Regions from separate parts of the Homo sapiens genome. Here all the other regions are linked to region 2. The links come from fine-mapping of genetic effects on gene expression. A gene starts in region 2. Each other region holds a variant in brackets. All regions are shown on one strand. Distances are from middle to middle.

Region 1 (2,762 bases), 22 kb before region 2:
GTTCTTTCCAGTATAATTACCACATGCTTTTTTTTTTTTTTTTTTTTTTGAGACTGAGTCTCACCCTGTTGCCCAGGCTAGAGTGCCATGTCGTGATCTGGGCTCACTGCAACCTCCACCTCCCAAGTTCAAGCAATTCTCCTGCCCCAGCCTCCCGAGTAGCTGGGATTACAGGCGCACGCCACCACACCCGGCTAATTTTTGTATCTTTTGATAGAGACAGGGTTTCACCATATTGGCCAGGCTGGTCTCAAACTCCTGAGCTCAAGTGCTCCGCCTACCACGGCCTCCTAAAGTGCTGAGATTACAGAAACCACACCCAGCCTGATTTATTTTTTGAAAAGTAGTTGATTATGAGCTCCATTAGCTAAGAAGATCAATTAATTTTTAAATGGTTTCACTTAGATTGAAAAATTCAGCCAATAGAAATCAGAAATATGCATTGTAGCACTACATTCAAGCTCTACAGTTATACATTATGTTCATGTCTCTTTTTTATAGCATTCTTTTCTCAGATTTTGAAAATTTTATGTTGCACATATTACAGTTATTTCAAAGTTATTGAGATCTGTTAGATGTGAAAAAAAAAAAAAAAAGCCTTCTTTCCATGTTCCTCCAATGCCATTCTAATAAAGGCCCTTCTCAACACCATCTAAAATGAAATGTCCCTGTTCTGGCTCAATAATAAATAAAGGGCAATTAAAAGAAGTGATTCTAGATGGTTTCCTGAGATAAAATACTTCAGATAAAATAAAATATGTTTGAAAGGAAATTTTAATAATAAAATACAGTAATCCTGACTGATCCTTCCTCAGGGAAGTCATACATTATTGAATAAGAACCACCTCCAAAAGCTTCTTTTCCATGTTTCCCAAGTCCAAATTATCCACCATTTGGGAAGGAGGCACTTCTTCCTATACTCATGTTGAAGAATATTTGGATAGTCTTCAAGATGACATAAAATTTCCTTTAGTGTGTCTCAAATTTAAACATGCACATAATCTATGACTTAGAAATTCCAATTATAGGAATCTGTCCTACAGAAATGCTAGGATGAGCATGTGAAGATATAGGTATATTGAAAGGACATATGTGTTTATGGTCACATTTCAGTAAATAGCACAGAACTGGAAACAAAACTAAATGTGATGGGGGGTGGAGTGGGAAATGAATACATGCACTGATGCATGCATCCAACTTCCAAAACATCCATTAAACAGAATACCACATAACATCTAAAGCAAGGATAGCCCTAAAGGTACTGACTTAAAAAGACATTCCACAGATAATACTAAGGTGGCAATATGAGACAGAGAATGTATTTTCCATAAGAATATAAACATATTGGCCAGGCTCATGGCTGTAATCCCAGTGCTTTGGGAGGCTGAGGTGGGAGGATCACTTGAGGCCAGGAGTTCAAGACTGTATTAGCCAGTTTTCACACTGCTGATAAAGACATACCCTGAGACTGGGAAGAAAAAGAAGTTTAACTGGACTTACAGTTCCACATGGCTGGGGAGGCCTCAGAACCATGGCGGGAGGTGAAAGACACTTCTTACATGGCAGCGGCAAGAGAAAATGAGGAAGAAGCAAAAGTGGAAAACCCTGATAAACCCATCAGATCTCATGAGACTTATTCACTATCACGAGAATAGCATAGGAAAGACTGGCCCTCATGATTCAATTACCTCCCCTTGGGTCCCTCCCATAAGAT[G/A]TGGGAATTCTGGGAGATGCAATTCAAGTTGAAATTTGGTGGGGACACAGCCAAACCATATCATTCTGCCCAGGGCTCTCTAAATCTCGTGTCCCCACATTTCAAAACAAACCATGCCTTCCCAACAGTCCCCCAAAAGTCTTAACTCATTTCAGCACTAACCCAAAAGTCCACAGTCCAAAGTCTCATCTGAGACAAGGCAAGTCCCTTCCACCTATGAGTCTGTAAAAACAAAAGCAAGCTAGTTCCTTCCTAGATACGATGGGGATACACGTATTGGGTAATTACAGCCGTTCCAAATGGGAGAAATTGGCCAAAACAAAGGGGTTACAGGGCCCATGCAAGTCCGAAATCCTGCATGGCAGTCAAACTTTAAAGCTCCAGAATGATCTCCTTTGACTCCAGGTCTCACATCCAGGTTACACTGAAGCATGAAGTGGGTTCCCACAGTCTTGGGCAGCTCTGCCCCTGTGGTTTTGCAGGGTACAGCCTCCCTTCTGGCTGCTTTCACGGGCTGGCATTGAGTGTCTGCGGCTCTTCCAGGTGCACAGTTCAAGCTGTCAGTGGATCTACCATTCTGGGGTCTGGAGGATGATGGCCCTCTTCTCACAGCTCCACTAGGCAGCACCCCACTAAGGACTCTGTTTGGGGGCTCCAACCCCACATTTCCCTTCCACACTGCCTTAGCAGAGGTTCTTCATGAGAGCCCCGCCCCTGCAGCAAACTTCTGCCAGGGCATCTAGGCATTTCCATACATCTTCTGAAATCTAGGTGGAGGTTCCCAAACCTCAATTCTTGACTTCTGTGCACCGCAGGCTCAACACCACATAGAAGCTGCCAAGGCTTGGGGCTTCCACCCTCTGAAGCCACAGCCTGAGCTGTACATTGGCTCCTTTCAGCCATGGCTGGAGCGGCTAGGACACAAGGCACCAAGTCCCTAGGCTGCATACAGCATGGGGACCCTGGGCTCAGCCCACAAAACCACTTCTTCCTCCTGGGTCTCCAGGCCTGTGATGGGAAGCGGCCGCCATGAAGGTTTCTGACATGC
Region 2 (2,762 bases):
ACGCAGATCAGAAAGCTGGCGTCTGGCGAGGGCATGTACCCACTTGCATAAGGCGGCTGGGGGTGGCTGCTGGGCCTGGCACAAAGCCTTCCTGGTGTCGGTCGTCCTGCAAGGCCCGCCGGGATGGGTGGCTGCACTCCTCCAGCACACGGACGCTTTACTGGCCAGGCTACTTTTCCTTCAGCTCAAAGCAGCTGGAATCACTCCACTCCAGAAACCCTTGATTCGATTTCCACAGGCCTAATGAGGAAGGAAAAAAGGGAAACATCTGAAAGATGATGGATAGGAGGCAAAACCTGGGGTTGACACAGCGGGCGAAATGGGGCAATGTCGCAGAGAGAGAGAGCTTGGAAAAGTTTAAAGACGGCAGTGGGCAAATGGAAAGTTCAACACGTGAGACCCCGAATGACACCTCAACGGCTGGCCCCTACTTGTGCCAAAAAGTCTCTCGGCGGGTGCCAGGCAGGGCTCAGGAAGTGCTCGGCTGCCCCTTGAACGTCAGTCCCGGCAGAGCCCAGCTGTCCGCTTGAACGTCAGTCCCGGCCAAGGGCTGAGGGGTCAGTGGCGAGCACCCCGCCGCGGCTGAGACGCCGCGCTGGGGTTCCGGACCCCGGGCGCCGCCAGGGATTGCTTCGGGGTCGGTGATCTCCCGGGGCCGCCCGCCACCGTGCACCGCGGCGCCCCGGGTCCCCAGCGCGCCTGGGAGGGGCCCCGGGGAGCGGCTCCGCCCCGGCTGGAAACCTGGTCAACGCGGCTAGGGCCCGGGGCCCGCCTGCGCTCCGGGCGCTGGGAAGGGGCCGGGCGCCCGGGGCCGGGGAGGGCCAGGATCGGCTTCCGACGCCCGCCTCCCGGCCCGCAGGGAATGGGAAGGCGCGGGCGGAGTGCGTGCGTAGGCTATAGCCCTCCGGGAAGCCGCGCCGGGAGCGGCTACCACCCGGGCAAGAACAGCGCAGAGCGCTGCGGCGGCGGGAAGGAGAGCGGGGGAAGGCTCCGCAGATTGCGGGGGAGTCCCACCTGGAGCCGGGGCAGCCGTGAACTACCGAGGAGGAGGCGGAGGAGACGGCGGCTGTTCCAGAGGAGGGAGTCGTCATAACCGGCTACTGCCGCTCACCGGAAACCTCGGGCGCGGGAGCTGGGCCAGGGGGCGCCAAGGAGCAGCTGGGACACCTTGGCCAGCCGGCGCCGTGGGCGGGCTCGGGCCCCGCAGAGGCAGGACCGGGACTACACCCAGGAGGGCCAGGGCGCGGGGCCCGACGCTCGGAGCGGCTTCAGCCCGGCGAGCGGCCTCGACCCGGCGAGCGCAGCAGGGAGGGGCTCAGAGTCGAGGAACCATCTGCCCTTCCTGGCGTTCTCCCGCGAACGTTCGCGCGAGTCCGCCAGCTCCCTCACCAGGGCCGGAAAGACCGACGGCACGTGCCGGCGCCGGACGCCCATCTCCATCGCAGCAGCCCGCGCCTCCTTGAGCGAGAGCGTTAAAGCGCTCAGAGGATGTTAGGACGGGGTGGGTAGAAAACCTGACTCTTCGTGTCTTCTGCGTTGCACTGAGGTGGATTTTTACTTTTGTCTTATTTCAAGCAGAAGTTGCCGCCCTAACTTCCAAATTTGGGGACTGAACATCGTTCACCGAATACACTTTGTGATGGTGAGGATACTTTGGAGTCCACACACATTTTAAAAGCAGTATAGTTTTACCTATCCGTAAACTCATCAAGTTCAAATGCTACTCTGTGGAGTTTAATTTTTATGGTTTTGTTAATTTACTTTATTACTGCTTATAATTATTTGAACTCCCATCCCCCACTGTCTTTTCCTCTAAGCTCCCCCAGGCCTAGTATTCCATCTACAGCACAGTAGAGTTGATCATTAAATAGTGACTAAAGTTGAACTGATTATATGAAGGTGATGACTTCAAAATAAACATGCTCAAATGAATATAGTCACCAGAAGTTAAATAATATGATCATAAGGAAACAAGTTTGTTTCCAAAGGCTTACATGCTTTTTACGTAATTTTTAAAAGTAATGTTGTTTAAGAATTGTTACAAGTTCCATTAGTGACCTGCTAAATTAGGAATCTTACCTGGAATTTTTTTCAAATAATAACAGCAAGAACATGTGGTGTTTAACATGTGCCAAACATTGTTTTAAAGCACTTTACAGTATTAATTTATTCTTTTTATTGAAAAGATTTTGCCTCTAAGGGAACTGTCAAGAGGCATGTGAACCGGAGCAACTCCATCTTAAATAGGAGCTGAGTAAAATGAGGCTGAAACCTACTGGGCTGCATTCCCAGGCCGTTAAAGCATTCTAAGTCGCAGAATGAGATAGGAAGTCGGCACAAGATACAGGTCATAAAGACCTTGTTGATAAAACAGGTTGCAGTAAATAAGCCGGCTAAATCCCACCAAAACCAAGATGGCCATGAAAGAGACCTCTGGTAGTCCTTACTACTATACTCCTATCAGCGCCATGACAGTTTACGAATGCCATGGCAATGTCAGGAAGTTACCCTATATGGTCTTAAAAGGGGAGGCATGAATAATCCACCTGTTTAGCATATCATCAAGAAATAACCATAAAAATGGGCAACCAGCAGCACTCAGGGCTGCTTTGTCTATGGAGTAGCCATTCTTTTCTTCCTTTACTTTCTTTTTTTTTTTCCTTTACTTTCTTAACAAACTTGCTTACACTTTGCCCTGAATTCTTTCTTGCTCGAGATCCAAGAACCCTCTCTTGGGGTCTGGATTGGGACCCCTTTCCTAT
Region 3 (2,762 bases), 21 kb after region 2:
ATGGTTTGAAAGAGACATAATAAAGGTATTAAAAATACATGTAGAAAAAGAGAAAATGTAAAAATCTACATATTAGACACAAAATGTAACTATCAGATCAAATGAATTTCAATTTCATACCATTATTCTAATTCTATAAACAAGATGGAAGAGCTTCTGCATCGAGCATAAAAACTAAAGCAGTTACCAAGCCTATCAGAAAGATTCTTCTCTAATTTCTCCCACGACGATGTCTGGGATCCCAGGGTTGCTTGCAAATTTTCTATTTGTCGAAGCAATGGTCTTGTTGTTGATGAAACACTTTGACTCAGTTCCTGGTTTCGATTCTCTGCTTCCTGGAGTCTCTGAATCATGAAATTCTGAAGTCATTACCAATGACAGCAATAAAAACATTAAAAACACTAGCAAACCTGAACTTTGAGAGGTTCCTGGAAAATTATTTTTCCAAGAGAAAATAATTTGCTTTTTAATTATTATTATTAATTTTAGAAACGGGGTCCCGCTCTGTCACCCAGGCTGGAGTGCAGTGGCACAATCGTGGCTCACTGTAGCCTCAACCTCCTAGGCTCAAGCGATCCTCCCAGCTGGGACTACAGGTACACGCCACCACACCTGGCTAATTTTTGTATTTTTTTGTAGAGACGAGGTTTCATCATGTTGCTCAGGCTGGCCTCGAACTCCTGAGCAGGCAATCTGACTGCCTCAGCCTCCCAAAGCATTGGGATTATAGGCATGAACCACCATGCCCAGCCCTTAATTATTTTTCTAACTGTTCAATCCTTCCAAGAGAGTTAGATTGTGTAATACAGTATCTAAATAAGTACTTCTTTGGCCAGGCACGGTGGCTCATGTGTGTAATCCCAGCACTTTGGGAGGCTGAGGTGGGTGGATCACCTGAAGTCAGGAGTTCAAGACCAGCCTGGCCAACATGGTGAAACCTCATCTCTACTAAAAATACAAAAATTAGCTGGGCATGGTGGTGCACGCCTGTAATCCCAGCTACTTGGGAGGCTGAGGCAGGAGAATCGCTTGAACCCAGGAGGCAGAGGGTGCAGTGAGCCAAGATTGTGCCACTGCACTCCTGCCTGGGCAACAGAGCAAGACTCTGTCTCAAAATAAAGAAATTAAATAAATAAATAAATAAGTGCTTCTTTAAAAAGCGTTTCTAAGATAGTCTTCAATTACCTGAAGGTTAAAAAAGAGTTCATCCAAACCTCTTAGTAGTTACCTCCTCATCCAAATATTTCTAAGTATTTATAAAAACTGAAAAATCAACCTAAATTGTATTTTCTCTCCCTTTTCCTCTGCATGTTATAAATGACTGAAAATTAACAGAGGCATAGAAACCGGGAACTATTACCTGTCCCACAGTAATCAAAGACTGACAATCATTAATAAGCGATTACAAATGGAAAAGCAATACTGAATACATATAACAAATCTATCATAACATTATTTTCTATAAAACAAAATAAGGAATTTCCTTGTATAATTTTTAAGGTGCCCACTCTGATTTATTCACACAAGCCACAAAAATTCAGCAAATGCTA[G/C]GTGTGACAGTAATCCTCTCAATTCCATGAACACTATCCCACTGAGGAATTCTTTTATTTCTAGAAAAACACATACTTCTTGGATTTGTGTTTTGGAAACCTGTGACAGTACCTGCTGAAGTTCACCGATCTCATGGCGTAAATAATCCTCCTTTCTGGCAGCCGCTTGTTCTGTACGCTGCAATGCAAGCCTAAGGTCCCCCACCTGTAGGAGGAGAAACAATACATTCACAAACAATGGTACAGTATTATCTATAACTTCCCACTAACTACATATTTTGTGTTGTGTCAACATTGTTCATGTATACTATTTCATACTCTCCAATGAACTTTTACATATGATTATCACATCTCTCATTCATCAAGCAATTCTAAAACTGTATGTATATTCAATGTTTACTTAGAAAAGCATTCTGTTAAGGCAAAGAAACGCAAACAAATATGTATAAGGCATAGCCATTACCATACAATATTGGAGAAAAGACAGTGCGTCTATAAATATTTGCCACATCACACAGAAAGTGATAGGTGCTATACGGATTATAAAAGCTGGGGGCTCCACTCATATGCAGGAGCATACATTATAAACTACCATAGCCTTTTTGGAAAACGTTATAATATGTTTAAAGAATCATCAAACTTCTCACATCCTTTCACCGGGCCATCCTAGTCTTGGGAATTCACTCTAAGAAAGCAGATACGTAAATACACAGGGATATTCCCTACAGTATTAAATAGGCTAGCAAAAACAAAACTGGAAATATTCTAAATCTCCATCACTAGTAATCTATAGTTGCAAATGTCGATACAACATGAATATAACCATTAAAAATTACAATAAATGTATAAAACATGTAAAAAAAATTTCTAATATACTATTAAATGGAAAAACTATAAAATAACACGTAAGACATCAATTATGAAAAACACATATATGGGAATAGAATGAAACACTAACACACAAAACTGACAGTACTTGGAAAAAGTGATGGATTTATGCATGGTAACTCATATATGCTCTATCTCCCATTCCCCCAATTTTTCTGTATTATTATTATTCTAACGTATTTTAAATTTAAATTACTGATATTTTATCTATCCCAGCAGAAACACAAAGGATATATGGACCATGGCATGACTTATAATAGCAAAATACTGAAAATAACCCAAATATCCATCAATAAGAAATAGCTGAAAATACTTCACCTAATA

Alleles and levels. Alleles are on the strand shown, and positions count from the first base shown. SD is a standard deviation of normalised expression in the study named. Not every link is listed here.
For the expression in monocytes after LPS of the gene that starts at base 1,125 in region 2, allele G in region 1 goes with a lower level than allele A (large effect, 1.0 SD a copy in Quach 2016).

Evidence for each region. PIP is the estimated chance that this variant, and not a neighbour inherited with it, causes the effect.
Region 1: its variant is the best candidate, but not a certain one, in a credible set for the expression of EOGT in monocytes after LPS (Quach 2016, PIP 0.70).
Region 3: its variant is the best candidate, but not a certain one, in a credible set for the expression of EOGT in whole blood (INTERVAL, PIP 0.62).

What each region holds. Positions count from the first base shown.
Region 1 is chr3:68,990,322-68,993,083 of GRCh38, forward strand. The region is part of intron 10 of EOGT (EGF domain specific O-linked N-acetylglucosamine transferase); the gene reads right to left. Among named protein-coding and RNA genes, the nearest start is that of EOGT-DT, 21 kb to the right of the region's middle. The variant G/A (reference allele first, on the strand shown) is at 1,715.
Region 2 is chr3:69,012,560-69,015,321 of GRCh38, forward strand. EOGT (EGF domain specific O-linked N-acetylglucosamine transferase) reads right to left here and starts at 1,125. Exons shown (of 18, transcript NM_001278689.2): 1 at 1,015-1,125; 2 at 1-240. EOGT-DT (EOGT divergent transcript) reads left to right here and starts at 561. Exons shown (of 1, transcript NR_185971.1): 1 at 561-2,762. RefSeq lists silencers at 443-992, 1,053-1,352.
Region 3 is chr3:69,033,361-69,036,122 of GRCh38, forward strand. It overlaps TMF1 (TATA element modulatory factor 1), which reads right to left. Exons shown (of 17, transcript NM_007114.3): 9 at 1,663-1,755; 10 at 188-344. Among named protein-coding and RNA genes, the nearest start is that of MIR3136, 14 kb to the right of the region's middle. The variant G/C (reference allele first, on the strand shown) is at 1,551.